4 linked regions of the Homo sapiens genome follow. The protein of the gene in region 1 interacts with the protein of each later gene in a pairwise test. Each region holds a gene or a part of one and is shown in the gene's direction. Other genes may lie near its edges. The genes, in order: PEX1, SEMA4C, ING4 and ZNF180.

Region 1 (7,513 bases):
TTTAGTAGAGACGGGATTTTACCATGTTGGCCAGGCTGGCCTCGACCTCCTGACCTCATGATCCACCAGCTTCGGCCTCCCAAAGTGCTGGGATTACAGGCGAGAACCACCGTGCCCGGTCTTGCCTTAGTTATTTCTTGTTCCCTCCTCTAGTCCTATAGTTCTCTGACTGTATTGAGGAAATGTAATTAAATATTATTATGTTAATAGATATTTATGTGGTTGAATATTAGAAATTCCTTATTTTGGTCACATATCCTGATCAGTAGTTGGTCTTCTGGAGATAGTGATTTTTCACTAGAGATGACTTTAGGACCTATTCAGGTTTTTTTTAAGATCCCAATTTAAGGAAAGACTATTCTCATTATTGATTTTGCTATATGCAGGGAAATTTATTTCGAAAGGTTTTTCAGTTGGCTTTTAGGGAAGATTATATATTCTCTTTTTTTTTTTTTGGCCTTTTCCCACATGTTCTAAAAATGATATATTCTTTAACTCCTATGAAAATACATTGTTTCAGTAATTGAAGATGCTGATTAAAGTCATATCTCTACACATTTTTTAAAATTTGAGATAGATGGGACTTTGTCCCTTCTTACACCATTCACTTATTCACTTGGAAAAACTATTATCCAATACTTATGTGGCAGACACTGTTTCTGGCACAAGGGATTCAGCAGTGAACAAAACTGCCTTTTTGGAGTTTACATTCTACTAGTGGAAAGCGACAACAAGCAGATAGACACATTCAGTATATAATTCACTGTCAGATGGTGGTGGTAAGTCCTATGTAGGAAGAAAAGCAGGGTAAGGAGGCTTGGAGTAACTGGAGTGAGTCATAGATGGACTTGTCAGGAAAGGGTTTCTGAAGAGGTGGTATTTGGGCAGAGATCTAAATAAAATGAAGCAACAAGCCATGAGAATATCCGGGGGAAAATGTTCTGGGCAGAAGCATCAAGCATAGAACTTGTGGTATGATATTTATTCTAGCACACATTAATTTTAAAAATGTATAAAAGACATCCATTTAATCATATTAAAGATTTCCATGATTCATTTAGACTTAGTCAGAAACCAAATTTATATTTTCTTTTTAAATAATTTTATCTCAACTCTTATTTTACCCAATAGGGGCCAGAGTTACTCAGCAAATACATTGGAGCAAGTGAACAAGCTGTTCGGGATATTTTTATTAGGTTGGTAGCCTATGAATGTTTTTAAAGTAACTGACTCTGTTATTATTTATCAATCAGTGCTTTTTTTGGTCTTGTTTTTTGAAGAACTGATATTTGAAACCTGTGGTTTATGTGAATTATTAATAAGCTAGAGGACGTGGATTCTCTATTTCATCAAATAATACAAAACATTTTAGATATTAAATTTTGGAAATTATTTGGTTTTGTTTTACAATAGAAATACTCCTCAAAGTGGAATCGAAGTGGTTATTCAAAGAAATCTCAGAGTAGATTCTTATATGAAGCAAATAATTGCCCCTAATTTATCTCTAAATTTTGTAAGTTCTAAATTCTTTTTTCCCCCAGTTTCTAATTTATCTCTTATAAGTCAAGAGTCCATCTGGCCAATTTAATTTCAGTGAGTGTAACTATTTTGCATATATTAAAAAACTGTATATGAATACAGAAGATGGTATTTAAGGATGAAAATAATTATTCAAATGTGATAGCATTATGGGGAGTTTTAAAATAAAAGTTACTGTTTTATTCTTCCAAAAATTTTATTATAAAGTATACAGTTAAGAGAATATACATAAAATACATATGCAGCTTAAGGAAGAATAATAAAATGAATACTTCATGTATTCACCACCGAGTTTACCAGGAAAAAGCATAAACAAAATAAACCTCTTCCACGTAATTCCTGGGTTAAAGAGAAGTTATAGTGGAAAATATTTGGGAGCAAACGATAATGAAAATACTATCCATTAAAATTGTTAGATGTTGCAAAACTGATTTCAAGGAAAATTTATAGTGTTAAATGTTTAGAAAAGAAAAAAGGTTAGAAGTTAACCACTTATGTATCTATCTCATGAAATTAGGAAAATTATAGATATAAACTAAAAAATATGTTAAAAGGGAAATAATAAAGATAAGAATGAAGTTTAATGAAACACAAAACAGAGAAGCTCACAAAGCCAAGATTTATTTTTTGAACACCGAGTACAATTGACAAATCTCTAACAAGTTTGATTAAGAAAAAAGAAAGCATGAATAAACAATTTTAGGGATAAAAAGGGAAACATCGCTAAAGATATCCCAGAAATGTAAAAGATAATAAGGGAATATTATGAAAATATTCATGCCAATACATTTGAAAACTTAGGTGACATAGACAAAAACAAAATTGACCAAAATTGAGCAAAAAAGAAACAAAATCTGAGTAGTCCTGTAACTTAGTAAAAATTGAGTTAGAAAAGTTAAAGAAGTCTTTACACAAATCAAACATCAGACTCAGTTTTCTAGGAGAGTTTTGCCAAACATTCAAGTAGCAGATAATTCTGGTCTATTTTTGGCCCCAGAAGATATATTTTACTTGCCATGCATTTAATGAGATAGCTGTTGATTTTTTTCAATCACCGTGACAGGTGTTTTATATTAGGTGTTATTCGCCAGACATCTAGTCCACCTGTTGCCAGATATGGAATTAATATTCACTTATTTTGAATTAAAATTTGTTAATAAATTAATAAAACAAAGTCAAAGTTCAAATTATTAAAAAAGTAAAAGAAATAAAATATATTTTATAGAGAGCCCTTACAAAACAGTACCAACATAATGAGCTTTCCAAATTTTGAATGGGCAAAATAAATGAATAGGCATTTCACAAAAGAAGGAAGGGTGGCCAATAAGTATATATTAATATAAAAATGGTTACTTGTAATAGGAATCAAAAGTGTTTGACTTATTGACTAAGAGTCAGTTTTTGTTTTGATCCCTGTTAGTCTATCCAGAAGGCATGGGTCTTAATAAACACCTTGACCTCAACAGTTTACTGAATACAAGGGTAATTTCATATGCCTTGCCTTCTTTAAGGGTTTGTTGTAAAGATTAAAATAAATACATAAATATATATAAATACATTTATATGTATTTATATGTAATTACATACAACTTGCCTTCTTTAAGGGTTTGTTGTAAAAATTAAAAGAAGTATATAAATATATATAAATACATAAAATAAATACATTCATATATGTATATGAAATCACTTTGCCAACTATGAAGCCTGATTCAAATATGAAATGTTGTTTGTTTTTCCCAGAGCACAGGCTGCAAAGCCCTGCATTCTTTTCTTTGATGAATTTGAATCCATTGCTCCTCGGCGGGGTCATGATAATACAGGAGTTACAGACCGAGTAGTTAACCAGTTGCTGACTCAGTTGGATGGAGTAGAAGGCTTACAGGGTAATAATTATAAATACAGAAATAGAATGTTATAACAAAATGTCATCATGTCATCAGATTTTGGTAAAAAAATGTTCTTTTTTCCTCTAGGTGTTTATGTATTGGCTGCTACTAGTCGCCCTGACTTGATTGACCCTGCCCTGCTTAGGCCTGGTCGACTAGATAAATGTGTATACTGTCCTCCTCCTGATCAGGTGACAATTTCATATTTAGAGTCCAAAACCCAACAAATGCTACACTCTTTCCTTGTGAGCTTTACTTCTGCCAGGTAATGGCAATTGTCCTTAGAAGACCAGCTTTCTTAGGGAAAAGCTTTAGCCACTGTTTGCTCAAAGCATAAAAAGATTCTGAATTAGATGCAAAGCCTTTTTTTGGCCCAGTGCAAGTCTGAAAACTTTGTAATCCTTCTGTGTTGGCTGATTGGGGAAAAAAAAATGCAAGAAACCTAATGTATTATATTTTCACATTATCTTCTGTTCAAAGATTACATACTTCCATTATCCTGTCAAAAAAAAAACTCTGATACAGAATCAAGCATGTGAATCGTAAGCATGTAAGCAGGTTTCATAGAGATAATTTTTCAACTCTTCCTTGTCCTGTGTTGTTCCAACTCTTATTCTCCAATTTAGAAGCAAACAAATAAATGAATGAAAGAACAGATAGACAAATGAATAGTCAAAGGTATAAAGTATCTGTATATATGTTACATGTAGCTATTATTTAAATTATTTAGATTTTCCTTTTGAAATACCTTCTTGGCACACTTGCCTAAATCTAGAAAATAAGCACTGTGTGAATAAGAAATTATTTACACTGAATATTTTGTAGGTTTTTGGGTTTTTGTTTTTCAGACAAGGTCTCACTTTGTCACCCAGGCTGGAGTACACTGGTACGATCACAACTCACTGCAGCCTCTATGGCCCAGGCTCAAGCAATCTCCCCACCTCAGCCTCCCGAGTAGCTGGGACCACAGGCACACGCTACCATGCCCAGATAATTTTATTATTAATTTTTGTATAGAGATGGGGTCTCCCTGTGTTGCCCAGGCTTTCTTGAACTCCAGGGCTCAAGTGATCCTCCCACCTCAACCTCCCAAAGTGTTGGGATTACAGGCGTGAGCCACCATGCCCAGCCTTAAGAGTGTTTGATTTTCATTCATTTTCCTATATATATTATTTCTGTTGGGGAAAAAATTCCAAGGAAGATAAATAGTAGGCTGTTGGTACATTTCTCAACTTACTTATAAAGCTTTTTAGATATATAAGGTTAATTTATGAAGAAAATCATAAGATACACAATTTAAGATAATATTTTTAATTTTATTTTTTATTTGTTAAATAAATTTTTCTCCTTTCAGGTGTCACGTCTTGAAATTTTAAATGTCCTCAGTGACTCTCTACCTCTGGCAGATGATGTTGACCTTCAGCATGTAGCATCAGTAACTGACTCCTTTACTGGAGCTGATCTGAAAGCTTTACTTTACAATGCCCAATTGGAGGCCTTACATGGAATGCTGCTCTCGAGTGGACTCCAGGCAAGTTATATGAGGAAGTTGTTATGACATTTTATGAGTGATAAAAGAAGTACAATGTCAAAATTTCCACCTTAAAAAATGCTATTTTTTAAACAACTTTGGTAAAACTGTATAGAAACATAAATTTACCTTTAGTTGAATGTTCCATAGTTGGAATATGGGTTTTGCAGAGAATTTATAATTATGAAGTTTGATGTCTGTTTCTTTAACATTACCTTAATATTGGCAAAAACATGTTGGTGTTTGCAAGGATATTATTTAAATTGGGATACCATGAATTAAATACTACAAACAAAAATAATTAGAGTTTTTTGTTTGTTTGTACTTTAACTTTTAAAAAATAATCAGTTAAAGTTGTTGTTTTGAAGCTCACATTGTTCCAATCTGGCCAATAGGAGCCCCTTTTGTATGGCTCCTGTATCTTTATGACATGTCCTCATCATTCTTGAATCACTTCCTCACTTCCAGATACAGTAAGTTATTCTTGGCCAGGTGCAGTGGTTCACGCCTGTAATCCCAGCACTTTGGCAGGCCAAGGCAGGAGGATCATTTGGGCCTAGTTTGAGACCAAATCATGGTTGCACAAACTGTACCCACTATGGACAACAGAGTGGGATCTTGTCTCTGTGAAAAATTTAAAAATTAGCTGGGCATGGTGGCACATACCTGTAGTCCTAGCTTCTTGGGAGAGGCTGTGGCAGGAGGATCGCTTGAGTAAATCCAGGATGCAGTGAGCCATGCTTGTGCCACTGCACTCCAGCATGGATGACAGAATGAGACCCTGCCCCCAAAAAAGAAAAATATTCTTGGTTTATCTTGTACTTTCTGTATCCCAGCCCTAGCATCAGCCTTTTCTCTAAAGACAGTATTATGATTTTAATATTTACAGTAGATATTTGAACTGTTACATTATAGACTTTACCATATATTTTCTAGGAAGGATTATTCTATTACTCTTCTTTACCACATTTGTTTGGAATGTCTACAGAACCTACAGTTTCTAAATCAGAAACTCCCTAGGTTTTTGCTATTTTGGCAAGCCATTGAAGTTCTTCCCTCTCCCTTTACTACCAGAAAGGTGTGTATTTGTAGAGCTCTCTATAATGAGAAAGCACTCTATAACATGGTTGATTCATCATTTTGGAGTAGAAAAGTATGAATGGAAAGTCAGAGACATAAAAATAAAGCCCAGAGGTCTGAGTCTTAGCTTCATTACAGACTTTCTTGGGGGATGGTTGGTAAATTATCTACACATTCTATCTTGTCTTTATAATTTTAATAGTTAAATTTTTACCATGTGCCTCAAAACCGTTAGAGAATTAATGAGCTCTTTGAAAAATGCTTCTAAGTTTCTTGTATTGCTCTAATAGAATGCTATCTATGTTATTATTTATTTCTGAGACTAAAATTGTTTACATCTTTAAACTGGTTGTCCTTTTGTGTATTTTAGGATGGAAGTTCCAGCTCTGATAGTGACCTAAGTCTGTCTTCAATGGTCTTTCTTAACCATAGCAGTGGCTCTGACGATTCAGCTGGAGATGGAGAATGTGGCTTAGATCAGTCCCTTGTTTCTTTAGAGATGTCCGAGATCCTTCCAGATGAATCAAAATTCAATATGTACCGGCTCTACTTTGGAAGCTCTTATGAATCAGAACTTGGAAATGGAACCTCTTCTGATTTGGTATCTTGTGCAGTCATCATTATACAGTTCTGAAATATAAAGCTATATGTTGGTGTAAAGTTGCAGTGATTTCTCTCCTAACCAGCCCCACATATTCTTCCTGGTTGGTTGGTTCTTCAGTAAAATAGTCTTGTTTCTTGCTTACACTAATTGGTAATTTGCATTCCTTGTTAAGATTTTCAAGACAGGGCTGGGAGCAAGGAACCAAAGTAGCGCGTGGTTGTGATTACCTTTGGTTTCTTTGAGGTTTCTCTTACCTAGTGGCTTTAAAACATCTTTAGGAGCAGTTCCATTTTATAGTAAACTTAAATTCTGTTATCATGAACAGTTGAGGATAATGAATAATTTGATACAATAATGTAAGAAATTCCTGAAAACAAAGTGTTATCTGTGATACTTTTGCTGCATAGTAAGCACAATGAAGTGTACTGATAATGTTTCAACAGGAAAGTGTTTTGATTAAATGTGGGCAGTATCACTGTTCTACTAGCATTCAACATCTCTTCTAAAAATTAATAGTGGTTCACTGTAATTTTATTGGTACATGTAACATCTGTACATGTGTTTGGTTATCTATATGTTTCCTGGTTTTTTGTACATTTGCTTTATTAATTTAGGCTTTTTTTTTTTTTTTTTTTTGAGACAGTCTCACTCTATCATCCAGACTAGAGTGCAGTGGCACAATTATGGCTCACTGCAGCCTTGACCTCCTGGGCTTAGGTGATTCTTCCACCTCAGCCTCCTGAGTAGCTGGGACTACAGGCACATGCCACCATGCCCAGCTAATTTTTGTATGTTTTGTAGAGACGAGGTTTCACCATATTGCCCAGGCTGGTCTCAAACTCCTGGGCTCAAGCTATCTGCGTGCCTTGACCT
Region 2 (7,785 bases), on another chromosome or scaffold:
CCAGTCCTGGCTCTTGTCCACTGTCCCCTCCTCTACTGCTCCCCAAACATACCCATCCCCAAGAGAGAAATAGATACCAAGGGGAGAGGAGGTGTCGGTGACGACTCAGTCCCTCCAGAGACCTGGCTGTAACCCGAGCAGAGGTGTGCACTGTGAGGTCGCCCAAGGGCGTATGCTGTCCCCTGGGGTGTGTAATGGGCCCTCTCTGGGACTGGCTGGGAGCTGACCAGATCTTCTAAAACTAGTCTGGGATCGGTTAGAGACTCAGCCTCCCCAAGGTCCAGATTTTCACAGTGGTGCTGGCAATGTGACCACTTGCCCTCCAGATCTTTGACTTTTCCAGATCCCTAAGCCCTTGGGAAAAGGCTGGGGGATATCCTGATAGGAGCCACTGGAAAATCCGCATCCGGGGCTGTGATGACGGATGTTTTCCTGCTTCCTTTTGGTACTGGTGACAGGGAGGGGCTGGGAAGGGAAAGACATCCCAGGTGGGCAGCTTTGATAACTCTCCTTTGGAGGAAGTAGGGAGGGAGAGTCCTTTTCCTATGTCCCTAGTCACCTCGGTCCCCAGGCGCGCTGACCCAAGCTTTCTCACTTCCCCATCTGTGGGATGACGGCAGTCCTGGCTGCCTTGGAAATCCACCAGGCAGCGTTCACCAGAGAACCCAGTGTCCACCCAGGGCCTCCCTCTGGCTGCCTCAGGAGAGCTAGTAGGTGAGTAGCTCAAATGAAGGGCAGTGTGGCCCCCAACCAACATCAAGAGATGGGAAGGGGGACTTGCTTTTCAGGAAAGACTCTTTAGGTCATCTCTAGGGGCTGGCCTGAGCTGCTGGGTGATCTTTGAAGACCCTTGAGAGTCATTTAGCACAATTTCTGTGTCTTTCCTTGACACGACCACAAGCAGTTGTCAAGGCCTGAGTCCCAAAGTGTGGATACCTTCCATAGATATGCTAGGCCCTAGGGAGACTAGTCAGGTACGTGCACCTCCCCCCACCCCCGGTACCTGTATTAGTAATTTTTTTATTAATTGAAGACCCAGAAATCTTTTTTTTATATCAGTTGTACTTTCATTTAGAAGTATGAATCATGAGCAAGTAGTCATGCAGGAAATTGTATCCTCTGCCCACCCACCCACAGAAAGGGCCAGTGCTGGAATGGACAGAATACAGCAGGAAGTGCATGAAGGTGGAAAAGGGGAGGGAGCTGGGAGCTTATCTCCGAGAGCGTTTGGGAGGATAGGCGCGTGGAGTCTGTTAGCTGGAGGCTTCTACATTCCTGGGCCTCCAGAACCCAAACGCCTGCCGCTGCCCTGCCAGTGAAACCAAACCGGTTGCCTTTTGAAACTTTCCACTGAGGCCACCTTGGAGTCAGAGCCAGCGAGCTCAGGTCTCTCCTGGTAACCTTCACACCTAGAGGTGGGGGGATGGGGGAGCAGTATTGAAGGTGAGGAAAAACAGCATGAAATGGAGCATTGTCAGGATAGATGGTGACTCTGTGGAAAAACAGAATCGGGAGTCCCAAGACCTGATTTAAAAATCTGAACTTTCCAGTCTGAGCAATATAGCGAGACCCTGTCCCGTGTATGATGGTGTGCACCTGTAGTCTTGGGAGGCTCACGTGGGAGGACCGCTTGAGCCCAGGAGTCTGAGGTTACATTGAGCCATGACTGTGCCATTGCACTCCAGACTGGGCAACAGAGTAAGACCCCGTTTCTAAAAAAGAAATTCTGACCTTTTTATCTCCATGACTTGGGGCTAGTTGTTTAATCTTTTTTAATTATCTCCATGACTTGGGGCTAGTTGTTTAATCTTTTTTAATTATCTCCATGACTTGGGGCTAGTTGTTTAATCTTTTTGACTCATCTCCAAAAGGGGAGCAACAATACTTATTTTTTTAATTTTGTCGAGGCAGGGTCTCGCTCTACAGGCTGGAGTGCAATGGCACAATCACAGCTCACTGCAGCCTCAACCTCCTGGGCTCAAGCGACCCTCCCACTCCAGCCTCCTGAGTAGCTGGGACTTACAGATGCATGCCACCACGCCCCCGCTAGTTTGGTTTGTTTGTTTGTTTGTTTGTTTGTTTTTGAGACAGAGTCTCCTTCTGTTGCCCAGGCTTGAGTGCAGTGGAGTGATCTTGGCTCACTACAAGCTCTGCCTCCTGGGTTCACGCCATTCTCCTGTCTCAGCCTCCCGAGTAGCTGGGACTACAGGCGCCCGCCACCACGCCTGGCTAATTTTTCTGTATTTTTAGTAAAGACAGGGTTTCACCATGTTAGCCAGGATGATCTGGATCTCCTGATCTCGTGATCCGCCTGCCTCAGCCTCCCAAAGTGCTGGGATTACAGGCGTGAGCCACCCCTCCCCGCCACGCCCCGCTAGTTTTTTTTTTTTTTTAATTTGGGGCTGGGCGTAGTGGCTAATCCCAGCACTTTGGGAGGCCTAAGCAGGTGGACCACCTGAGGTCAGGAGTTCGAGCCCAGCCTGACCAAAACGGCGAAGTCCCATCTCTACTAAAAATACAAAAATTAGCTGGGCATGGTGGCGCATGCCTGGTCAACATGGTGAAACCCCGTCTCTACTAAAAATACAAAAATTAGCCAGGTCTGGTGGCAGGCACCTGTAATTCCAGCTACTTGGGAGGCTGAAGCAGGAGAATCACTTGAACCCAGGAGGTGGAGGTTGCAGTGAGCCGAGATCGCGCTATTGCACTCCCGCCTGGGTGACAGAGTGAGACTCTGTCTCAAAAAAAAAATAATAATAATAATTTCTTTTGTAGAGACAGGGTCTCAGTATGTTGCCCTGGCTGGTCTTGAACTCCTGGGGTCAAGTGATCCTCCCATCTCAGCCTCCCAAATTACTTACTTTTTAAAGGGTGGTCATAAGGGTGAAGTAAGAAAATGTACATCAAGACAAGCTGCAAAAATCTAAAGCACAGAACACAAGTGAGGGCACTTGCATCTCAGTTTACCCTCCGCTTGAATAGATACGGGGAATAAACTAAACACGAGGGTGACACACCTTCTCCCACCTTGTCAGCTGAAGCAGGAGGCCTTCCCTGCCCACCCCATGGTCATTATCTCCAGCATCTCCAAGGCCACAGCTTTTTTTCTTTTTCCTAGTGGAAAAGAGCTGGGAAACGTGGCTTTGGCCAGCAAGGGAGAAGGGGCCATTATGTGTACCAGCAAAGACCCGATTGTTACTGAAACCAAACTGGGCTGCTTTTCTCAATTATCTCCACCACTTTTCTGGTCTCCACTTTTCAGATGCCAAGTTTTAACCCAGAACAAAAGCTGCTGTCGGACTGATTTATAATCCAGATCTGCTGACGCAGCCTGAAGTGTTCCTCCCCTCCAGGACTGCACCCTGGCTTAAAGTTACCTCCAAACCTCAGGACGTCAAGCCCCTTCACCTCTGCCTTTTGCCCCTAGCCAGGAGGTAGCATCTGTCTCCAGGTGCCCGTGGGGTGTCCTCCATGAGGACCACCTCTTCTAACCACCTGCCCAGCTCAGAGGACCAGCTGGCAGGAAAGACGCTGCACCGCCCATGAGGCCAGAGCTACAAGTTGCTTCTAGGAGTGGCTGTGGGCGGAGGCTGGTGGTTCTGAAGGTGGCGGTGGTTCTGCAGCGTGGCTCCCCACAGCCCCTTTCATCTGAACAGTAGGGCTCATGCCACTTGTTAATCAGCCTTCCAGTGGCACGAGGAGTCATTTTCTGGGGATAGGCGCTTTGCCCAAAGCGTGAGAAGCAGGAGCAGGCCCTTTCTGTTGATTGAAGGGTCTTCCTGGCTGGTGAAGCCCTTTCCAGACTTGAGGGCAGGGACCAGTGGTCCTCGGGGCCTAGAAAGAGGCAGAATTGGGGGCCAAACGGCAGACCCCTCTGGTCCGCCCCAAAAGACGCCTCGGTTCCCCCAGCGTGCCTCCCCTGGATACTCGCCTCGACGTGGCTCGCCCGCGGTCGTTCCTGCAACTGCACGGTCGGGAGTCCCTCTCCCCAGCCCAGCCCGCCCGGAGTCTTCGGGGGACACTTCAGAAAGATCGGGTGAGTGTGATTCCCCCGTGGCCATACCCGGAGTCCCTCCCCCGCCCCACCTCCCTCCAGGCGCTGTGGCGCAGCCCGCGACTCCGAGCCCCGGGGCTGCTGGACACCCGGAGGGGTTGAGGTCCGGGCACCCAGAGAGGCGGAGGTCCGAGCCCCCGGGCGGAGAGCGGGCGGGTCCACAGGTCGCTGCGGGTCGCAGCCCCCTCCTGAGCGAGCCTTCGCGGCCCGCCCCCGGCCTCCGCTCGACCCCCCCAGCCTGACGTCAAGGGGAAGGGGGCGGAGAGCCGCGGCCGCGCTGGAGAAAGAGCCGGCGCCCGCCGTGGTGGCGCGGGGAGCCCGAGCCTAGGGGCGCGGAGCCGGGCGGGGACGGAGGGGCGGTGGCAGAGAGGCCGCGGAGGGCTGGCGGGCGAGCGCGGGCAGGCGGCGACGCGGGGGCAGGGGTGGACGGCGGTCAGAGCCGAACGCGAGGGCGGCGCCCGGGGACTGGAGCTGCGCGCAATAGGTGAGCGAGGCCGGGCTTGCGTGAGGCTGGAGCCGCGGGGCCCCGGAGCCGCCGCTTTGTCCCTTTGCTTGGGCAGGGGCTGCCGGACGCGGGAGGGACAGGGGCTGGGGCGCGGGGAGCCGCGGCGGCGGAGACGGCTGTACGCGGGGATCCTTCCTGCGACCCCCGCGGCTGCTTCGCAGGGTCTCGGGAGTGGGGCGCACAGCACCTGCAGCCCCGCAGCCCCGGGGCCGGAGGGGCGCGCCAGCGAGGGTTCCTCGCGCGGTCCGGTCCGCGGCCGGGATCCTCGCCAGGCTCCTGGACTGCCCTCGGCGCTCCCACCCCCGATGGAAAGTTTGGGGCGGGCTTGGAGGGAGGCCGATGTTGTGGGATCGGATTTCCCTGCCGCGGCCCCCCGCCCGCCCGCCCATTCCGCTGGGGAGGCGGGTTGTCCCGGAAAGCCAGGCCCCCGGGCCGAGCCGGGCCGCGCCGTCCCCGGCTGGAGCGCTCGCCCTGCAGGGAGGGCCGCGGTCCACGGCTGGCCGCTCGGGGTGGGCGAGGGTGTGGGGTGCCCCGCCTGGATCCCGCACCCCTCCCCCCAACCCCTCCTCCCGGCTGCCCGTTTCCTCGCCCTGGGGGGAGCTGCGGGTGGGAGCACCGCTGCCGGGCGGATCCTCGGAGCACGCCACGGGGTGCGGCCCGATCCTCGGGTAAGGAGCCGAGATGAGGCCGCGGGCGTTTTGGGGGGCTGGTCTGGGGCGCAGCCCCCGCTCTCCCGCGCCGGGGCTCTGGGCCGACAGGGGGCGTCCGCAGGCCGGGCTCGCCACGCTCCCCGCGCCGCCGCTTTGTTTGCGTTCAAATCCCTGGAGCTGGGGGAGGGGAGAACCCGGGGGGACCCGGGACGGGGTCTTGGCGGGGACCCTTTGTTTGGGGGTGAGCAGGTCCCCAGCTTCTGCGTCTCCGCCCCTGGCACGGGAAGGCTGGAGCAGGGGAAGCCAATCCCGCTGGCCCGCCCAGGCCAGGGTCCCTGGGGCGCAGTCCCCGAGTTGGGAAGGTTCGTCAGAGTCGCGGGAGCGCAGCGGGTGCCGGCCGTGCGCGGCGCGTTGCCAGCGGCCCGGGAGGAACCCCCTCGCGTCCCCGCCCCTACCTCCCCCCGTCGCCTGCGCGCGCCGCCGGAGTCCCCGACTCGACCCGAGCTCGGTCCCCCCACCGCCCCTCCGCCAGAGGGCTGGTGTTTCGGAGGAGGCAGTGCGAGGAACAGGATGAGGCCCTGGTCATTTCCACGCCCATCCCACCCACTTCCTGCCTCCCTCTTGGGCAACAAAGGGGCCTCGGGAAGCTGGGCCCCTTCGCTCCCGGCCCTTCTCACACTCCTGCCCTGCTGATGTGGAACGGGGTTTGGGGTTCTGCAGGGCTATTGTCTGCGCTGGGGAAGGGGACAGGCCGGGACCGGGACCTCCGCTCGCAGCCGGCCGCACCAGGTTTCCCCTTTGGGGCTTTCCCGACCGCCTACCCCACCGCATGCCCTCGTCGCCCTAAGGAGTCTTCCTCCCAGAATTAGGTGTTGGCAGGGTCCGGAGCCCCAGTGGCTGCAAGGCCTGCTGCCTGAGGTTCTTTCAAGAAACTCAAACCTCTTAGGCCTGAGTGTGTATGTTGGGCGGGGGTCCCCTTTTTATTTCTCAAATGATTTCCTGTTGCGCAGAGGTAGTGGTGGGTCTGGAGGCCAGGGAGGGCTTCCCGGAGCCTGTTTAGCCTTCAGCCAACTCAACTCCTCCCCGCTTCCCAGGGAGACCTGTGGTCTTTTAGGCAGAGGCCAAGTGTGGGGACTTAGGTCCACCTCCAAAGAGAAGGGGAAGGAGGGCACCGGGGCTCCTGGAAGGCCTGATGAGGAGTCCTGTGGCCTCTCCTGCTGCGGGCCCCTCTGGTTTGCTTTCTCTGGCTGTGATTTCTGACCATGTCTTTTCCCTCAGCAGGACAGCTGGCCTGAAGCTCAGAGCCGGGGCGTGCGCCATGGCCCCACACTGGGCTGTCTGGCTGCTGGCAGCAAGGCTGTGGGGCCTGGGCATTGGGGCTGAGGTGTGGTGGAACCTTGTGCCGCGTAAGACAGTGTCTTCTGGGGGTGAGTGCCTGGAGGGGTGAGGAGGAAGTCAGGGACAGGCTGCTGAGGAGTTGCCCCCATAGTGTGCTGGCTTTATTCTCACGTGTGTGGCACAGCTTTCTAAGAAACTCGAGTTGGAAGAACGGGCAGTGTGGGTTGGGACCTGGGATTAGCCTCCTCTGGGGGAGCTCTGTCCAACTCCCCACCCCAGACTGCCTGCCCAGGTGTGGGAGGGGGAGAGCCTTCTGCCTCGCCCTCTCCACGCCTCGCTTCTTGAATTGTCACTGGCGCTGGGAGCCTAAAGAGAAACTGGAACCGGGATAAATATAAACTGGAGGCTCTCTCCCCTGGCTCCCCAGGCCCCCCTAAGACCTCCTACTGCCCTGTACACATCATACACTCTGGTGGCCCTGGAAGTGTGTGTGTATGTGCACATGCTCGCATGGTTGCCGGGGCACAGCGGGGACCCAGCAGTGCTCCCTGTGCACACACCCGTGTGAAAGGTGATGTCAGGTGTTTGTATCAGCCGTGCGCTCTGGGGACCTGGGATGAGCTCACCTCCCACAGGCTCCACTCGGGTGCCAGTGAAGCCCTGCCATGCCGGTCTGTGTCTGGATCCATTGTTGCCTGCAAAGACTAAGGCTGGTTTGGGGGGACCCTGAGGACAGGTCGGCAGCCATATTTGGCAGCTGATGTAGGAATCACGTGACTGTATAAATGTCGTAGTGCCCTGCATGCCGGGTGGCAGCAAGACTTCCCAGGCCCCAGCCCCATCTCCGCTCTCTGAGCCTCTGGTTTCTCCGGACCTCCCTGGCCTGGCTCACAGCCCAGCTCCCCTCCTGCCATCCCCACCTGTCCTAGTGGCCTGCTGTGCTCGCATCTCTGGCAGCCTGGATTGGGGTCCTGCTGGAGTGAAGGGTTTCCTGAGGCAGGGAGTACTCATAGCCGTCTGTGCCTCCTGCTCTGCTGGACTCTGATAGAGGCAGTGGGCAGCAGGGCAAAGAAGGAAGCAGCCGCCGAGGAAGCGAAGGTGGGGTGGGGGTGCCCAGCCCTGCGGCCGGAGGTGCCATTGACCCTGAGAGCAAGAGCCATCAGTCTGATGGCTTCCTCTGGCCGGAAGCTGTGGCTGAGATATCCTTCCTTCCTCCCAGCAGCCTGGATTTGCCTCCT
Region 3 (7,408 bases), on another chromosome or scaffold:
TGTTATGGTTTTACGGATTTCCTTGAAGCCTCTCTCCTTCTCTGCCTACAAAGACCCTATACTCTCAGTCTCCCCAACCCACCCCCAAGGAGCTGTGGGAGGCTTTGTGTTATCTGTGAAACTCCAAAACAGGGGTGTTGCGGAGAAGGGAGAGTTCAAGGCAAACGCAAGGACTGGACTTAGCTCCCTAGGTGCCACAGTCAGATGCCGGACACGGATTTATATATAAATATATATATATAAATATATTATACTCACTCATCACGGCCATCTTTGTTGTAACCATTTCTGTGTTTATAAATGCATTATCTCTGAGAATTTTCATATTTGATGTTTTGTTTATTTTTGTCCTTTTTTTCCCTCTCTCCACCCCTGTCCTCTAGCCACAGCATTTTTCTTTTTGTCTTTTTTTTTTTTTTTTAAATCATGGCAGATTTCAGAGGAAAGGAAATTAAAAAAAAAATCAGGAAACCAGTTGTTATAAAGTAATTTAAAAATGAAGAAAAAAAGAAAAAAACTTATGTACAAACCAAGGGGTGTTTTTAGAACATTGTATAGAAATAAATTCATGTAAAAGGATCAGAGGCAGTGGAGCTACTGATGTGAGCGAGCATGCGGAAAAGGTATTTGGGGAGATGTCCAAGAACAGTACTGAGGATTTATACCAGAGTGTGTGTGTGATGAACAAGTGCTTGTGTGATGATGCCCCATTTGTGCAATTCTCCAGTCATGGAAGGGTACAGTTTCATGATGTCTCCAGTGAAATCCTGGTTTATGAGGACTTCTACATACACATTCTGTCATGGGGATTGCATTGCCTAAATATGTGAGAGCAAGGCTTTGGTTATGTGTTAACAAAACAGCTAAGCTCCCTATGGAAGAAAAATGGAAGCCTCTTGAAAGGACCTACACTCCTGCCTGAGTCTGTGGAAGAGGGGCTTGCAGTTGGCAATGTGTATACATATGTGTATTTGTTACCTTGTGGAAATCATAACCGGTTAAGGGGTGCAAGATTGATTTATGCAGGAGAGCTGTAGTACTATGGAGTAGAATGTGGTCATGAAACCTGGACTTCAGCCCTTTGCCTACCATCAACCAGTGTTGGCCAGGGTGCTTCTTCAACTGTTAGTGAAGGGATTGGACTAGATAACTCTGAAGATACCTTTTTTGAGAATTAAGTAACTTGCTTTAAGGCTGGGTGCGGTGGCTCACGCCTGTAATCCCAGCATTTTGGGAGGGCGAGGCAGGCAGACTACTTGACGTCAGGAGTTCAAGACCAGCCTGGCCAACATGGTGAAACCCCATCTCTACTAAAAATACAAAAATTGATGGCCGTGCACGGTGGCTCACGCCTGTAATCCCAGCACTTTGGGAGGCCGAGACAGGTGAATCATGAGGTTAGGAGCTCGAGACCAGCCTGGCCAGTATGGTGAAACCCCGTCTCTACTGAAAATACAAAAAATAAGCTAGGCATAGTGGTGGGCGCCTGCAATCCCAGCTACTCAGGAGGCTGAGGCAGGAGAATCTTTTGAACCTAGGAGGCAGAGGTTGCAGTGAGCCAAGATCGTGCCATGGCACTCCAGCCTGGGCGACAGAGTGAGACTCTCTCTCAAAAAAGTAAAATAAAAATACAAAAATTAGCCAGGTGTGGTGGCACGCGCCTGTAGTCCCAGCTGCAGGCTGAGGCAGAAGAATGACTTGAACCTGGGAGGCGGAGGTTGCAGTGAGCCGGGATTGCACCACTGCACTCCAGCCTGGGCCACAGAGCGAGATTCTGTCTGGAAAAAAAAAAAAAAACAAAAAAAAAAAAACCTTGCTTTAAGCACCGAAAAAGTTGTGAAAGTTGTGACCAAGCTCCCACATCCTGAGAACTCTGGGACTGCTGGCCAATAGTACTTGTTATGTAGTTGGGCTGGGATAAATAAAGCCCACTTAATTTAGTGCTAGATATCCTGTGTGGGCACCTAAGATGGTGTCTCAATATGTTGTGTAATACCAATGAATGTATCACATATGACCAAATATGCCAATGTTTCTTAGCTCCCTGCATATTTACTGCTTTTTCCTCCCACTCTCACCAACTCTTGAAAAGGCCCTAATGGCCCTAACTTCATCACCAGTATTAGAACTAGAATCTACTCTTTTTATGGATACACTCACACTCACTTATTCCAACAACCCTATGAGGGAGGTAGTAGTCTCATTGTATAGTAAAACAGGCACAGAGATCAAGTTACCGAAAAGCATGACTTTTGTAATTAGAGCAGTTTCCCGGATTCTATTGCTGTATCTTACTACCTGCACACTAGTAAACCTGGGGTTTACAGGCTACAGATCCTTTCAGCTCTGATACCCCCACCACTCTACAGCCCCTGAACCCCCTCCTCCAGCCTGCTCTTACTGTCCAGATAATGTTTCAAATACATCCCTGCATCCATCTCGAAGCAAAACAAAGCAACTTCCAATCCGCCCCGGGTTGGAAGTTCCTCTTCTCCACATATTTGGTAGAAATTATATAGCTGAAAGTCTGTCTCTTTAAAAACTTGCCGTAAGACATTGGTAATTCTTATGAAGGATGTGTGAGGGTACGAAAAGTGTGAGGGGTGGCAGCTATCTCTAAAATACTATCTTACTAACACCACTATTAGGTTATGGCCTTTGTGTTGGCAGTGTGTTGACAGCCTAGTGTGTTGGCAGCCTCTCATACCCTTGACTGCTTCCCATTCTGATGAAAACCATAGAAATCACTCTACCATAGCTGACTAGAGTGATGGCTAGCAACTAACTAGCCAACTAGCCCAGTAGTGATACTGCTGCATCCCTCAATCCCTTCAGAATTATGATGCTAACATCACATATAAACAAAAGGAAAACAAAAACACGAGATTTCCCCCTTAGAGAGTAGCAAGAGGGGCCAGGCACAGTGGTTCGCACCTGTAATCCCAGCACTTTGAGAGGCTGAGGTGGGCAGATCACCTGAGGTCGGAAGTTCGAGACCAGCCTCACCGACATGGAGAAACCCCATCTCTACTAAAAATACAAAATTAGTCTGGCGTGATGGTGCATACCTGTAATCCCAGCTACACGGGAGGCTGAGACAGAAGAATCACTTGAACCCGGGAGGTGGAGGTTGCGGTGAGCCATGATCACGCCATTGCACTCCAGCCTGGGCAATAAGAGTGAAAATTCTGTCTCAAAAAAAAAAAAAAAAAAGCAAGAGGGCAAGGCAGGAAGTAATATTTTATATGTGAAAGTGTATTCTAGTGTAACGTACAGGAGCTCTGACAAAAGATGTGCAGAATTATAGCTTTATTATGAGTCATTCTTTGTATTTATAAGTAGAAAGGTGATCATCTTTCTCAAGTTAAAAAAATAATGCTGGGGGAGATGGTGTTTGTGTGAGTGAATAGAAATTCAGACGGTTTAAATGTCTCAAGGCCTGATACTCTTCCCCAACTTCCTTAAGAAACTAACTGGCTTGAAAAAAGTCATTCTGCAAAAGAGGGAAAAAAAGTTGGATCTTCCAGTTGCTGAGAAGGTATGTTTACGCAATATGAGCCTAAAGTGAACAGTTACCCCTGCACGGATTACCATACATTCCCGTTTTGGAGGGAAAAAAGTTTGCTAGAGAATGCAAAATGGCGACCTCCAGTGACGTCATACCTGTCTCGGTCGCGTCCTGGGGTGTCTGTAAGGGCGGAAGCGGGCTACAGCCGCCTCACTGTGGGCGGTCGTGGCTACCATGCAAAAGGAAAAGTTTCAGTGTCGGGCGGATGTGTACCGGCGGTAATATAGTAAGGGCGGAAGTTCTCCTTTAAGGGCGGAAGTTCTCCTTTTAAGGGCGGAAGTTCTCCTTTTAAGGGCGGAAAGGCTTTAGCCGCAAAATGGCTTCGGCCCCTGTCGCGTTACAGTCACTTCCGGGGCGGATCGGAAGTTGCTTTGTTTTGCTTCGAGATGGCTGCGGGGATGTATTTGGAACATTATCTGGACAGTAAGAGCAGGCTGGAGGTGGGGGTCGGGGCTGCAGAGTGGTGCGGGGATCAGGGATGAGAGGATCTGTAGCCCTTAAGTTCCAGTGACGAGAAGGTCACAATTATGAAGCGGTTCTGTGGCAGGAAATATTGGAGGGTGCGGAGAAAGAGGGGGCGGGGCAGCAGGATCGAGGCCCCGCTGATGGGTGTAGACGAGGGAGGGGTGCGGTGTGGGGGTTAGAGACGTGTCTTGAAGGGCTAGTGTGCATGGCCAGGAAGATAGTTGCTGCCCCCATTCTCCAGGGTCTCCAGCCTCGGTAGATTTTTTTCCCCATAGTCGTTCAGAATCGTTATCACACACTGCCATTTGGAGAAGCGGTAAAGACCTCTCCTCCACTCCATTCTTCCTCAAAAGTGGCTTCTCATGGGGTTGAGAGTGGTGGTGATGAGTGACCACTGTCAGATGATGAACTAGAACGCTTCTCTTCATGGAGTAAAGATCTAATTCCCATCAAATGAAAATCTGGTGTTTATGCGATTTATGTAAACCACCCCTGCAGAAAGCCTATTGCTCTGTGCGCTTACATTTGTTTTAGGGCCCGGAGTCATTTATTCAACAAATATTTATTGAGGTCCTGCTATGGGTCAGACATAATGGCAGGCACTAGGGATAGAAAAATGAGTAAGACAAGGCTCCTGCCCTCAAGAAGCTCACGATCTAGTAGGAAACAGATTCTGCAAATAATTATAAAACACTGTGACAAGTGAGATAATGGAAATACATTAAAAAGGACACTTGGTAGGCAACCCTGGAGAAAAGGGGGGTAATTACCTGGGGATGTAGGAAAAGCTTTACAGCGGAGGTGATGTTTGAATAGGGTCTTGAAGGTTATTTGCCAGTGAGGAGAGAAAAAAGGAATTCCAGGTTGGGGAAAGCATCCGCAAAGGTACTGTGATGGGTTTGTGGCAAGGTCAAGGGTGTTTGATATTTATGACTCAGAGGTCAGCGTATTTGATATTTATGAATCTAAGGTAAGAAATTGAGAAAGGAGACTGGAGAAAGAGGCTGAGGCTAGATTGGACAAGGTCTTTTAAGCCAAACGAAGAAGTTTGCATTTTAAAGTAGAGTATGATTTTTATAGAGGAAAATGACTAATATATGGTAAATTGGAGCATGATATTGTTGATAACAGAGATCAATTAGTGATAACATTCCAGGACAGAGATAAGAACCTGATTTTAGGGAGTTACAGAAGTATTTAGGAGTTAAATATGAAAGGACTGACTGAATGACTGAGTGGTTGAGAGAGAAGGAAGAATCTAAGGTGGCTTCTTCCTGCTTAGAAAGTGAGGTAGACAGGCTGGGCACAGTAGCTCATGCCTGTAATCTCAGCACTTTGGGAGGCCAAGGCGGGCAGATCACTTGAGGTCAGGAGTTTGAGATCACCCTGTCCAACATGGTGAAGCCCAGTCTCTACTTTAAAAAAAAAAAAAAATTAGCTGGGCATGGTGGCATGTGACTGTAATCCCAGCTACTTGGGAGGCTGAGTCAGGAGAATCACTTGAACCCAGCAGGTGAAGATTGCAGTGAGCTAAGATCATACATACCACTGCACTCCAGCCTGGGTGACAGAGAAAGACTCCGTGTCCCTCTCAAAAAAAAAAAAAAAAAAAAAAACAAAGGCTGGTGGCCAGGCACGGTGGCTCATGCCTGTAATCCCAACACTTTGGGAGGCTGAGGCAGGCGGATCATGAGGTCAGGAGATCGAGACCAGCCTGGCTAACATGGTGAAACCCCGTCTCTACTAAAAATAAAAAAAATAGCCAGGTGTGGTGGTGTGCCCCTGTAGTCCCAGCTACTTAGGAGGCTAAGGCAGGAGAATCGCTTGAACCTGGGAGGTGGAGGTTGCAGTGGGCCGAGATCATGCCACTGCACTCCAGCCTGGGCAACAGAGTGAGACTCCGCCTCAAAAAAAAAACAAAAACAAAAAGGCTGGGAGCGGTGGCTCACGCCTATAATCCTAGCACATTGGGAGGCTGAGATGGGTGGATCGCCTTAGGTCAGGAGTTCCAAGACCAGCCTGGCTAACATAGTGAAACCCCGTCTCTACTAAAAATACAAAAATTAGCTGGGCGTGGTGGCAGACGCCTGTAATCCCAGCTACTTGGGAGGCTGAGGCACAAGAATTCCTTGAACCTGAGATTGCGCCATTGCACTCCAGCCTGGGCGACAAGAGCGACACTACACCTCAAAAGAAAAGAAAAGAAAGTTACTCAGCGGAGAAAAGATCATGCCAACTGCTGCAGAGATATTTTTTAGGATAGGCTTAATAACACCATTAGATTTGGTAAATCACCAGTGACTCAGTCTTGTGAACTGGTGGTAGCAGACCTGAAGTTGTAGGTTTAAACAGTAGAGGCATTTTATTTTTTTTTATTTATTTTATTTTAGTTTTTCTGTTTGTTTGTTTGTTTTTGAGACAGAGTCTCACTCTGTCACCCAGGCTGGAGCGCAATGGTGCGATCTTGGCCCACTGCAACCTCTGCCTCCCGGGTTCAAGTGATTCTCCTGCCTCAGCCTCTTGAGTAGCTAGGATTACAGTGCCCGCCACCATACCCAGCTAATTTTTGTATTTTTAGTAGAGATGAGGTTTCACTGTGTTGGCCAGGCTGGTCTCAAACTCCCAACCTCAGGTGATCCACCCACCTTGGCCTCCCAGAGTGCTGGGATTACAGGCATGAGCCACCGTACCAGGCCTTTTATTTTTTATATATATATTTAATTTTTATAGAGACAGGATCTGGCCATATTGCCCAGGCTGGTCTCAGACTCCTGAGATCAAGCGATCTACCTGCCTTGGCCTCCCAGAATGCTGGGATTACAGGCGTGAGCCACTGTGCCCAGCAAGTAGAGGCATTTTTAAAGTTTTAGGTGGAGTCTTGGCAAGAGATTTCTCTTGTACTGGGGTGACAAATATTCATGCATTTATTCAAGTATTTACTGAGTACCTGCTCTTTGCAAGTCATAATTCTAAACACTATGGAAACAGGAGAGAATATGATAGCCATGTTCGGCCTGGGGAGACAGATACCAAATAACTAATTACACATTATTTTTTTTAATTTTTTTGTTTTTTGAAACAGTCTTGCTCTTTTGCCCGGGCTGCAACCTCTACCTCCCTGGTTCAAGCAATTGTCCTGCCTCAGTCTCTTGAGTAACTGGAACTACAGCCACAGGCCACCATGCCCATCTATTTTTTTTTTTTTTTTTTGAGACAGAGTCTCGCTCTGTCGCCCAGGCTGGAGTGCAGTGGAGCGATCTCGGCTCACTGAAAGCTCCACCTCCTGGATGCACGCCACTCTCCTGCCTCAGCCTCCCGAGTAGCTGGGACTACAGGCGCCCGCCACCACGGCCAGCTAATTTTTTTGTATTTTTA
Region 4 (8,092 bases), on another chromosome or scaffold:
TTTATTACAGCAAAAGGATGGAGAATAAAATTAGCAAAGGGAAAAGGTGCATGGGGTGAAGTCTGGAGGATACCCTGCACCAGCTTCCAAGTGTTCTCTTTCAGTGGAGTCACATGGTGTATTAGTCTGCTTTCTTTGGCCTATAACAGAATATCTAAATCTGGGTAATTTGTTTTAAAAAGGAAATTTATTTCTTACAGTTATGGAGGCTTAGAAGTCTAAGGTCTAGGGGTTGCATCTGGTGAGAGCACTTCTTGCTGGTGGGGACTCTCTGTGGAGTCCTGAAGTGGTGCAGGGAATCACATGCCAAGGGGACTGAGTGTGGTAACATGTTAGCTCATGTTTCTCTTTCTTTTCTTATGAAGCTACCAGTTCCACTCCCATGATAACCCGTTAATCCATTAGTCCATGAATGGATTAATCCATTCATGAAGGCAAAACCCTCATGAGCCAATCACCTCTTAAAAACCCCCACCTCTCAATATTGCCACACTGGGGATTAAGTTTCAACATGAGTTTTGGAGGAGACAAATATCCAAACCACAGCACATGGGAAATCCCCCAGCAATGATGTGTGACAACGTGTGTGAAGCATTGCCATCGAGGGAAGCTCACCTAAACCTGGGTGTCCATGGTTTTTATAAAGGGTCAGTCACTGAAGCTCCAGACTCCTAGAAGGAAAGCAGATGTTCCTCCATAAATTACACTGTTAGTATAAACCATCTGGACAAAGTGGTACAGCATGGCTCAAGGCCTCAGGCAAACAAAAGCACTCTTACCAGATAGAACATTATGAGAGCTCAGTTCCCAGAGCTGCCCAAAGGCTAGTCAGGAAAACAGGACCTTCTGGGGAACTTACAGAGTTTGAGCAATAGGCCTGTTATGTCAACCCCAAGCAGAGTGGATGAAGACAAGGCAAGGGACAGGCTGACAGCTGATTCCTGGGTTCCTCTGATGTTTACAGGAGAGATCAAGCAAAGGAGACAAAAAAGGACTGTTAACACAGGGGGAAACCAACACTGAAAACTCCTGGAAATGAAGAGTTTTCAGAATGCGTTGTTGCTATCCTTGGAGCTGAATGGCTATCATAATGATGATAACATTAATTCAGATTTTAAAAATTAATCATTAGATGTGATACAAGAGACCGGAATTAGGATCTTAAGGGTTGCACTCAGTAGTACCAGAAACACCACCCTATTTGAACCCTGAGAACTTTCCTCTTCCCTGCCAAGAAATGTCCCCCTCCCCCTGACATCCTAGAGACAGATCATGCCCTTTTACCCTCTCGTTACTCTTACTTTGTTTTCTAGTATTTATAGTAAATGGATTCATAATCTTCTTGCTCTTCACTGTATCTTGAGCCCTTATCCAATTCATGGCCAATAAACAGAATCTTAATATAAACTTTGGTCTCAGCTCTTCCCGACAGTTGACAGATAAATCTCTAGATTAGATAGGCATCTTTCTAGAATGTTCCTGAGTGGTAACTCTTTAAAATTTTTATTTATTCATTTATTTATTTTGAGACAGGGTCTGGCTCTGTCGCTGAGGCTGGAGTGTAGTAGCATAATCTTGGTTCACTGCAACCTCTGCTTCCTGGGCTCAGGCAATCCTTCCTGCCTCAGCCTCCTGAGTAGCTGGGACTACAGCTTGTGCCACCAGGCCCAGCTAATTTTTGTATTTTTTGTAGAGACGGGGTTTCACCATGTTGCCCAGGCTGGTCTCAAACTCCTGGGCTCAAGTGATCCTCCTGCTCCGGCTTCCCAAAGTGTGGGGATTACAGGCGTGAGCCACTGCGCCCAGCAGTGGTAACTCTTCTAAAGTCCCTGTAATATTCAGGTTAAGTCAGGATTTATAGGTTCCTGGAAGTAAACATTACCACCTTGTTCATTGTGAAAGAAAATAAAAAAGACTAAACAAAAGACAGATAAACAAAGTCAGTTTTACATTACATAGTACTAACGCTTTATTTTCTGAAAATTGTTTTTTTTTTTTGAGATGGAGTCTTGCTCTGTTGCCCAGGATGGAGTGTAGCAACGTGATCTTGGCTCATTGCAGCCTCTGCCTCCCAGGTTCAAGCGATTCTTCTGCCTCAGACTCCTGAGTAGCTGGGATTACAGGCGTGCATCACCATGCCTGTCTAATTTTTGTATTTTTTAAGTAGACACAGAGTTTTGCCATGTTGGCCAGACTGGTCTTGAACTCTTGACCTCATGATTGGCCTGCCTTAGCCTCCCAAAGTACTAGGATTACAGGTGTGAGCCACTGCGCCTGGCCTATTTTCTGAATATCTTAAACAATTAGCAGAAAAATAAATGAAGTGAAAAAAGGAAGACGACCTAACACTCAAAGCATCCCATTCTGATTTTGTCATATTTGTATTTGCAGATCAATCTGCAAGATTTTACATCTTTACAACACACAGCTAGCAACACAGCATTTCTATTTGTCCATTTTTCTCTCTCAGTAAGGTTTTGAGGGTTTCTTCAGATGACATATTTATCTTACTAAATTTACTTATAAGGCTTTTTTTTTTTGCTTTTTTGTGAATACATACGAACTTTTTCTGTTTTGTTTGCAAACTTAGTATTGCTTGCACGTAGAGGAAAGATACTGATGTGTAGACAAGCGGCAACATAATGTAAAAGTTAAGAGCATGGACTCTAGAGTTCAACATCTTGGTCTCAAATGCACAACATAGGTGGAAATACAGATGAAACAAGACTGAGTGAAAATATTTAAGTTGGATGACATAGGTCTTGGGGAGTCATTAATTGAGTCCCTACTTTTGTTTTGAAATTTACAAAATAAAAGGTTAAAAAAATAAGCTACTTACTTCAATGTAGAAACCGATGTCACATTTAACCCTCAAACTTCAGAGATATGTCCATTAAAAGAACACAAACAAGAATGCCTCTTTTAGTAATACTTTTTTGGAAATGGTAGCCAATATAATCCAACATGAAAGAGAATGTCTAATTTAAAATACTGGTAAGGAAAAGATGAAATTGTAGATAACTGTCTCAATAGAAAAGCCAAGAGAGTCAACTGGAGTATTGTAAGAATTAATAACATTGCAGTAGGTTAACCAGATACAAAATAAGTATTTTTTAAAAGATCAACCACAATAACCAATAATAAGAAGCTTTGGGGATAGAGATTACATTTCAAATAGTAATAATTCATTGTTTTTAAAGGTCAGAATTTACGTGAAGAAAACTACAGGAGTGCTTTGACAAGCATTTTAAAAACTAAAAAATTATGTATTTTCATACAGCAGGGCTCCAATTTTCAGCTACCTCCCTGGTAGGATGAAAATTAACACAACTACCTCATAGGCTGATTGGGCTTGGTAATGAAATATTAAAGTGTTTAATACAGAGACAGGAACCTTTATTTAGCCAACGAATATTTATTGAGCATCTATTATGTGCCAGGTCTCTCTCTTTTTTTTTTTTTTAGGTGTTGGGGATGCAGCAGTGATCAACATCGATAAAATGCTTTTCCTTATGGAATTGACATCGTAGTGGTAGGTCGGACAGTAGACCAAATAAATAATTAAAATATATAGTGTGCTAGATAGTGAAAAGTTCTTTAGAGAAAAAAATAAAAGATGAAGGGGGAGGCACAGAGCATGTGGGGAGGGAAGCGTTTGCTTGCAAGTTCACAACGGGTGGTGGGGCAATGCCTCATGAGAAGATGATATTCCCCTAATTACCAGACGGTGAGAGCCAAATGAATCCCTCAGGAGAGGCTGCTAGGGAGTGCAAAGAGCACCTGCAAACGACCAGGGGCTGGAGTCTGCTGGATCTGTTGGAGAATGGGGAAAATGTGCCAAGCAAATGGGCAAGAAATGAGGGCAAAGAGAAAAGGGGACTACGCCTGTAATCCCAGCACTTTGGGAGGCCGAGGGCGGATCACCTGAGGTCAGGAGTTGGAGACTAACCTGGCCAACGTGGTGAAACCCCGTCTCTACTAAAAATACAAAAATTAGCCGGGCGTGGTGGCTGGCGCCTGTAATCCCAGCTATTCAGGAGGCTGAGGCAGGAGAATCGCTTGAATCCGGGAGGTGGAGGTTGCAGTGAGCCGAGATCGCGCTATTGCCCTCCAGCCTGGGCGACAAGAGCGAAATTCCGTCTCAAAACAACAAAACAAAACAAAACAAAAACAGAGAAAAGGGGAGAGGTGGGGGGAACAGATCCTTCAGGCCTTATAGGCAGAGAAAGAACTCAAAATTTAAAAATAAAATGATTATATTTTAGTATTATTAAATGTAAAAACATAGATTCCTGAAGGGTTCGGTAGACGCTCCCTCCACTGTAAAATGGGGATGTCGCAACTGTCTCACAGGTTTCCCCTAGGACTAGAGGAGACAAGGGGTCGCGCGCAGCGTCTGACAGGCAGGGGGCACCCAGAAAGGGTCCCCGCCATTTCTATTGGATTCTGACGTCACGCCAGAGCGACTCCCCATGCGTCGCTGCACTGGCCTCGGCCTCCCGGCGCCGCGGCTGGTCTTAGTGCTCCCCCTAGACCTGCACATGCACAGGTGTGGCGCCCCCCCGGGCCCCGGACGAGGACGCCCTCTTAGCTTCTGGCCCGGTCCCCCGCCCCACTTCCTTGGAGAAGCCGGAACCCCGCCTACTGACCGTCCGCGCCGCGGAGGCTTCTGGGAATTGTAGTTCTGGCTCTCCGAGCCCAAGTGCACTTCCGGGTTCGGCCACAAGAGCAGCCATTGTCCCGCGCGCGGACGCTTGCTGTCGCCGAGCAGCTCGGCCCTTCAGACTTAACCCCCAGCGGCCTTGCGGATGCTGACTAGGAGAGGGGACCGAACTAGCTTAACCCGAGTCGGCCGTGTTGCAGAATCGGGGCAGGGGGTTGCCTAACCCGAGTTCGTCCTGCCGCAGAGCCGTGCTAGGCACTGAGGCGGTGACAGGCCCAGCCTGGGCTGCGGGCCAGCGGACGCCCAGGTTGGTAGGGGCGTGGGGCAGCGCTTGGTGTCCGATGCGCGCATGCGCAGGGTCTACGCGGGAAGCTGGAAGCGGTGGTGAGTGTAGCGGGGAGACCTGGTATCTGTGCGGGTGGCGCTTTAGCCTCGGGTCACCGGGGTTGATGGAGTTACTGATACAGCTGTATATTCCGCGACTGTCCTCTGCGTGCATGCGCGGGTGCTTGGTCAGGTGGTGCTCTTGTCTGGGGCCTGAGGATGCCCAGGTTGCTGGAACACAGGGCACATGCATTGATGTAAGGGGACATCTTGAGAACTCCCCTCCTCCAATGCCGGGCTTATTTAGTGGAGGCCTGAGGATGTCCGGGTTGATGGAGTGCTCCATTGCAGATTGTGGTTTCTGGAGAGGAGGGGCTGTGCCACTGTCCCTTTACTCTTGATCAGGTATTTGGGTAGGAAGCAAAAGGTTGTAGGTAAGATTCCGAGCAGGTGGCTCTGGGCCCCTAGAGCAGACAACGCGCTTCTCCAAGGTCTGGGGGCGCTGTGGTTGGTGGAGAGACCAGATTGGAGTTGCAGATTCTTGTGCCAGAAGAGGCAGTGTTGCTAGTGAACCCTTGGTGGGAATTACCCATGGGCAGCAAACTCCCAGGCTGAAGGAGGGTATCAGGGCCTAGAAACAGGTTCTGGGCAGAGGGCCCCCTGCACGTCCTGGGGGTGTCTGAATGGAAAACAGAAACTTGAACTGATAGTAGGGACCTATGTAGGATAGTGCAGAGCTCTAGAGCATTCAAGATGGGCAGAGACTCCGGGTTGGAGATACAGAATTTAAGTCCAGGAAGGACAGAGCTGCAACAGCTGCCATCAAATTGGTAGCTGGGGAGGAAGCAGTATGTTGCCAGCATCGTTATGAAGCAGGTGTTGCTGAGACCTTTACTTGGGTACGCTATTTGCAGGCGTGAGAATGTGCAGGTTAGTAGAGGGACAGAGCCTGTGCTGCAGATTTGGTCCCGGGAAGAGCTGACTGCACAACACCCAGGCCGTCATGATTGGGCAAGAGAAGGACAAAGGGCCCAGTTCCCATTGAGCTGCTGTATCGTAGGCTCGAGAACCCCCACGCTGGCGAGTGCCCAAGTCCTGGGGCTGATTATGGAGCTGTATGCTCAAGCTACTGTTTAGTTGTTGTAGTGTCCTGGCTGCGGGCAAATAGTGGGGCAGTTGACCCCAGAACCTACACAGAGGCTGTGGGTACCTGAGATGTCCCAGGCAGGTTGAGACACAGGGTGAGGGATGTAGATTGTTGACTCAGGAGCATGGTGTGCCCCCAGACGGGCAGAGGAGCCAGGTCCTGGATGCAGATTGTGAGCACGAACCTGCTCTGTGGCTGTATCAGTAGGAGGGAGTCTAGGTGGGTGGCCCGTGTGCAGTGGCTGTGGAATAGAGGCCTGGGGGCTCCAGTTTGGATCTGGTCTTAGGAGGCACGGGGCTGCTCCAGCAACACTCTGCACGTGTGCTGGCATTTGGGCAGATTGGGGAGGCATGGGCAGTCCTAGGACCCTGATTCTGCCTGAGGATGCCCAGGTGTGTGGGGGGGAGCAGCTGCAGAGGGGCGGGACTGTGTCAGGCACCCCTTGTGCACACACACCGGTGTTTGGTTGGGAAACAGGAGGCCGGAGATGAGTTTTAGACAGAGGGTGCTGGGGTCTTTGTGTGATTGGAACCCTGATCACAGCCTGATGGTGCCCAGTTTGGTGGAAAGACAGGATCTTCCTGAGCCACAGGTGCCCCCGAAAGATGTTTGGTCAGAATCTGGGCAGGTGTGGCTCAAGCAGGGGGCTGTGGAGTAAGGTGGAGGAAACAGTTTGGGTGCAATTTCAGGAAACAGCTGCATTGTGAACCTACGCTATGCTGCGTGAGAATATGGTGGGAGCAGGGGAGAGAGTAAGTGGGAGAGATGGAGTGCAGAGGGTGGGGTGCCTAGGGTAGGATTTGCCCTCTAGTCTTGGATCCCAAAACACCTAGTTGGTACAGAGGCACCTGAGCTTCTGAGACATGTATTTAGAGCCTGGGTAGGGCTGCTTTTGTCTGGCTTGTGCTGGTGTCTGTTGGAGGCCCCCAGCCCTATGCAGGCCTTGTTGTAGTTTCAGGCCTGAGTATACCCAAGTTGGTGGAGGGACTGGTTTAGAGCTACAAATTCAGGGCCTGGGAGGGTGTTAGGGTGGGAATCTGGCTGGTGCTGTTCGAGTAGGAGCCAGTGGACCCCAGAAGTGTGGAGGGAACAGGATGTGGGTATAGCTGAGCTCTGTGCATAAATGCTTGGCTATTTGAGCAGGATGTGGGTGGCCCTCTGTGCTGAGTTGCTGGAGGGACAGGTCTGGCTGATGGAACGGTAGGATCAGTCTTAGTTGTTGAATCAGTTCCTGGGAGCAGTGGAGCTGTGTCACCAGCTTCATGCAGTTAGGCAGTGAGTGTGATTCTGGCCCTAGGAAGAAGTGCTGGTTTGGGGCTGTAGATTGAGGTTGGTAGGGGTAGGATGGGGTGAACACCAGGGGGTCCTCAATATGCCTGATATTTGTGGGGATCCCAGGGCCCAGTGAATAGGAGAGGGATGGACTGGTGCTGCAGACTTTGGTGGTGGGCAGAAGGCCATGTTGGGCACAAGCTGGGCTTACAGGTAGATGGTCCAGGGGCCCAAGATGGTGGAGGAACCAGGTTGGAGCTGCAGAAACTTGACCTGGGAGAGGGACTGAGGGACTCTCAGTACATACACAGGTATTTGGGCAGGAAGCTGGCAGGAACCTCCAGAAGTGCATTTGCTATGGGAATGCATCCTGCATCCTGGGAGCAGGGGCTAATGGGGGTGGGGGGCCCAGCGGTTCCGGCAGACCTACATCTTCATGCTGTACTTGGGGCTTCTCTCAGTGCAGCTCAGGACCTCAGCACCCTGCTGTGCCTGGAGGAGAGCATGGAAGAGCAGGATGAGAAGCCCCCAGAGCCCCCGAAGGTCTGTGCACAGGTGAGTGGAGACCCAGAGCTTGGGTCTGTCTGCAGCCTGACCCTCTCAGCTTGGGAGGCTGTGGCTCCTCCCTGACTCTCTTTGCAGCCTTTTAGGGGGTTTGAGGCCCTCATGGCCATCAGGCTTCTAAC

What was found.
Region 2: the proteins of PEX1 (region 1) and SEMA4C interact in binary tests that used the Homo sapiens proteins (3 or more experiments, as listed by UniProt).
Region 3: the proteins of PEX1 (region 1) and ING4 interact in binary tests that used the Homo sapiens proteins (3 or more experiments, as listed by UniProt).
Region 4: the proteins of PEX1 (region 1) and ZNF180 interact in binary tests that used the Homo sapiens proteins (3 or more experiments, as listed by UniProt).

Annotation. Positions count from the first base shown.
Region 1 is NC_000007.14:92,490,396-92,497,908, reverse strand, and holds part of PEX1 (peroxisomal ATPase PEX1), read left to right. Parts: intron 1-1,131; coding exon 1,132-1,196; intron 1,197-2,139; exon of another isoform or gene 2,140-3,279; coding exon 3,280-3,422; exon of another isoform or gene 3,423-3,512; coding exon 3,513-3,616; exon of another isoform or gene 3,617-4,779; coding exon 4,780-4,956; exon of another isoform or gene 4,957-6,406; coding exon 6,407-6,637; exon of another isoform or gene 6,638-6,666; intron 6,667-7,513. UniProt on the Homo sapiens protein: Component of the PEX1-PEX6 AAA ATPase complex, a protein dislocase complex that mediates the ATP-dependent extraction of the PEX5 receptor from peroxisomal membranes, an essential step for PEX5 recycling.
Region 2 is NC_000002.12:96,866,629-96,874,413, reverse strand, and holds the start of SEMA4C (semaphorin-4C precursor), read left to right. Parts: upstream 1-4,333; 5' UTR 4,334-4,378; coding exon of another isoform or gene 4,379-5,386; intron 5,387-5,664; coding exon of another isoform or gene 5,665-5,829; exon of another isoform or gene 5,830-5,995; coding exon of another isoform or gene 5,996-6,040; exon of another isoform or gene 6,041-6,401; coding exon of another isoform or gene 6,402-6,527; coding exon 6,528-6,636; intron 6,637-7,785. Other genes in the region: collagen alpha-1(I) chain-like, read right to left, coding at 4,379-5,386, 5,665-5,829, 5,996-6,040.
Region 3 is NC_000012.12:6,659,648-6,667,055, reverse strand, and holds the start of ING4 (inhibitor of growth protein 4), read left to right. Parts: upstream 1-3,936; 5' UTR 3,937-3,954; coding exon 3,955-3,991; exon of another isoform or gene 3,992-4,008; intron 4,009-7,408.
Region 4 is NC_000019.10:44,497,153-44,505,244, reverse strand, and holds the start of ZNF180 (zinc finger protein 180), read left to right. Parts: upstream 1-4,722; 5' UTR 4,723-4,970; exon of another isoform or gene 4,971-5,004; coding exon of another isoform or gene 5,005-5,047; intron 5,048-7,867; coding exon of another isoform or gene 7,868-7,910; coding exon 7,911-7,961; intron 7,962-8,092. UniProt on the Homo sapiens protein: May be involved in transcriptional regulation.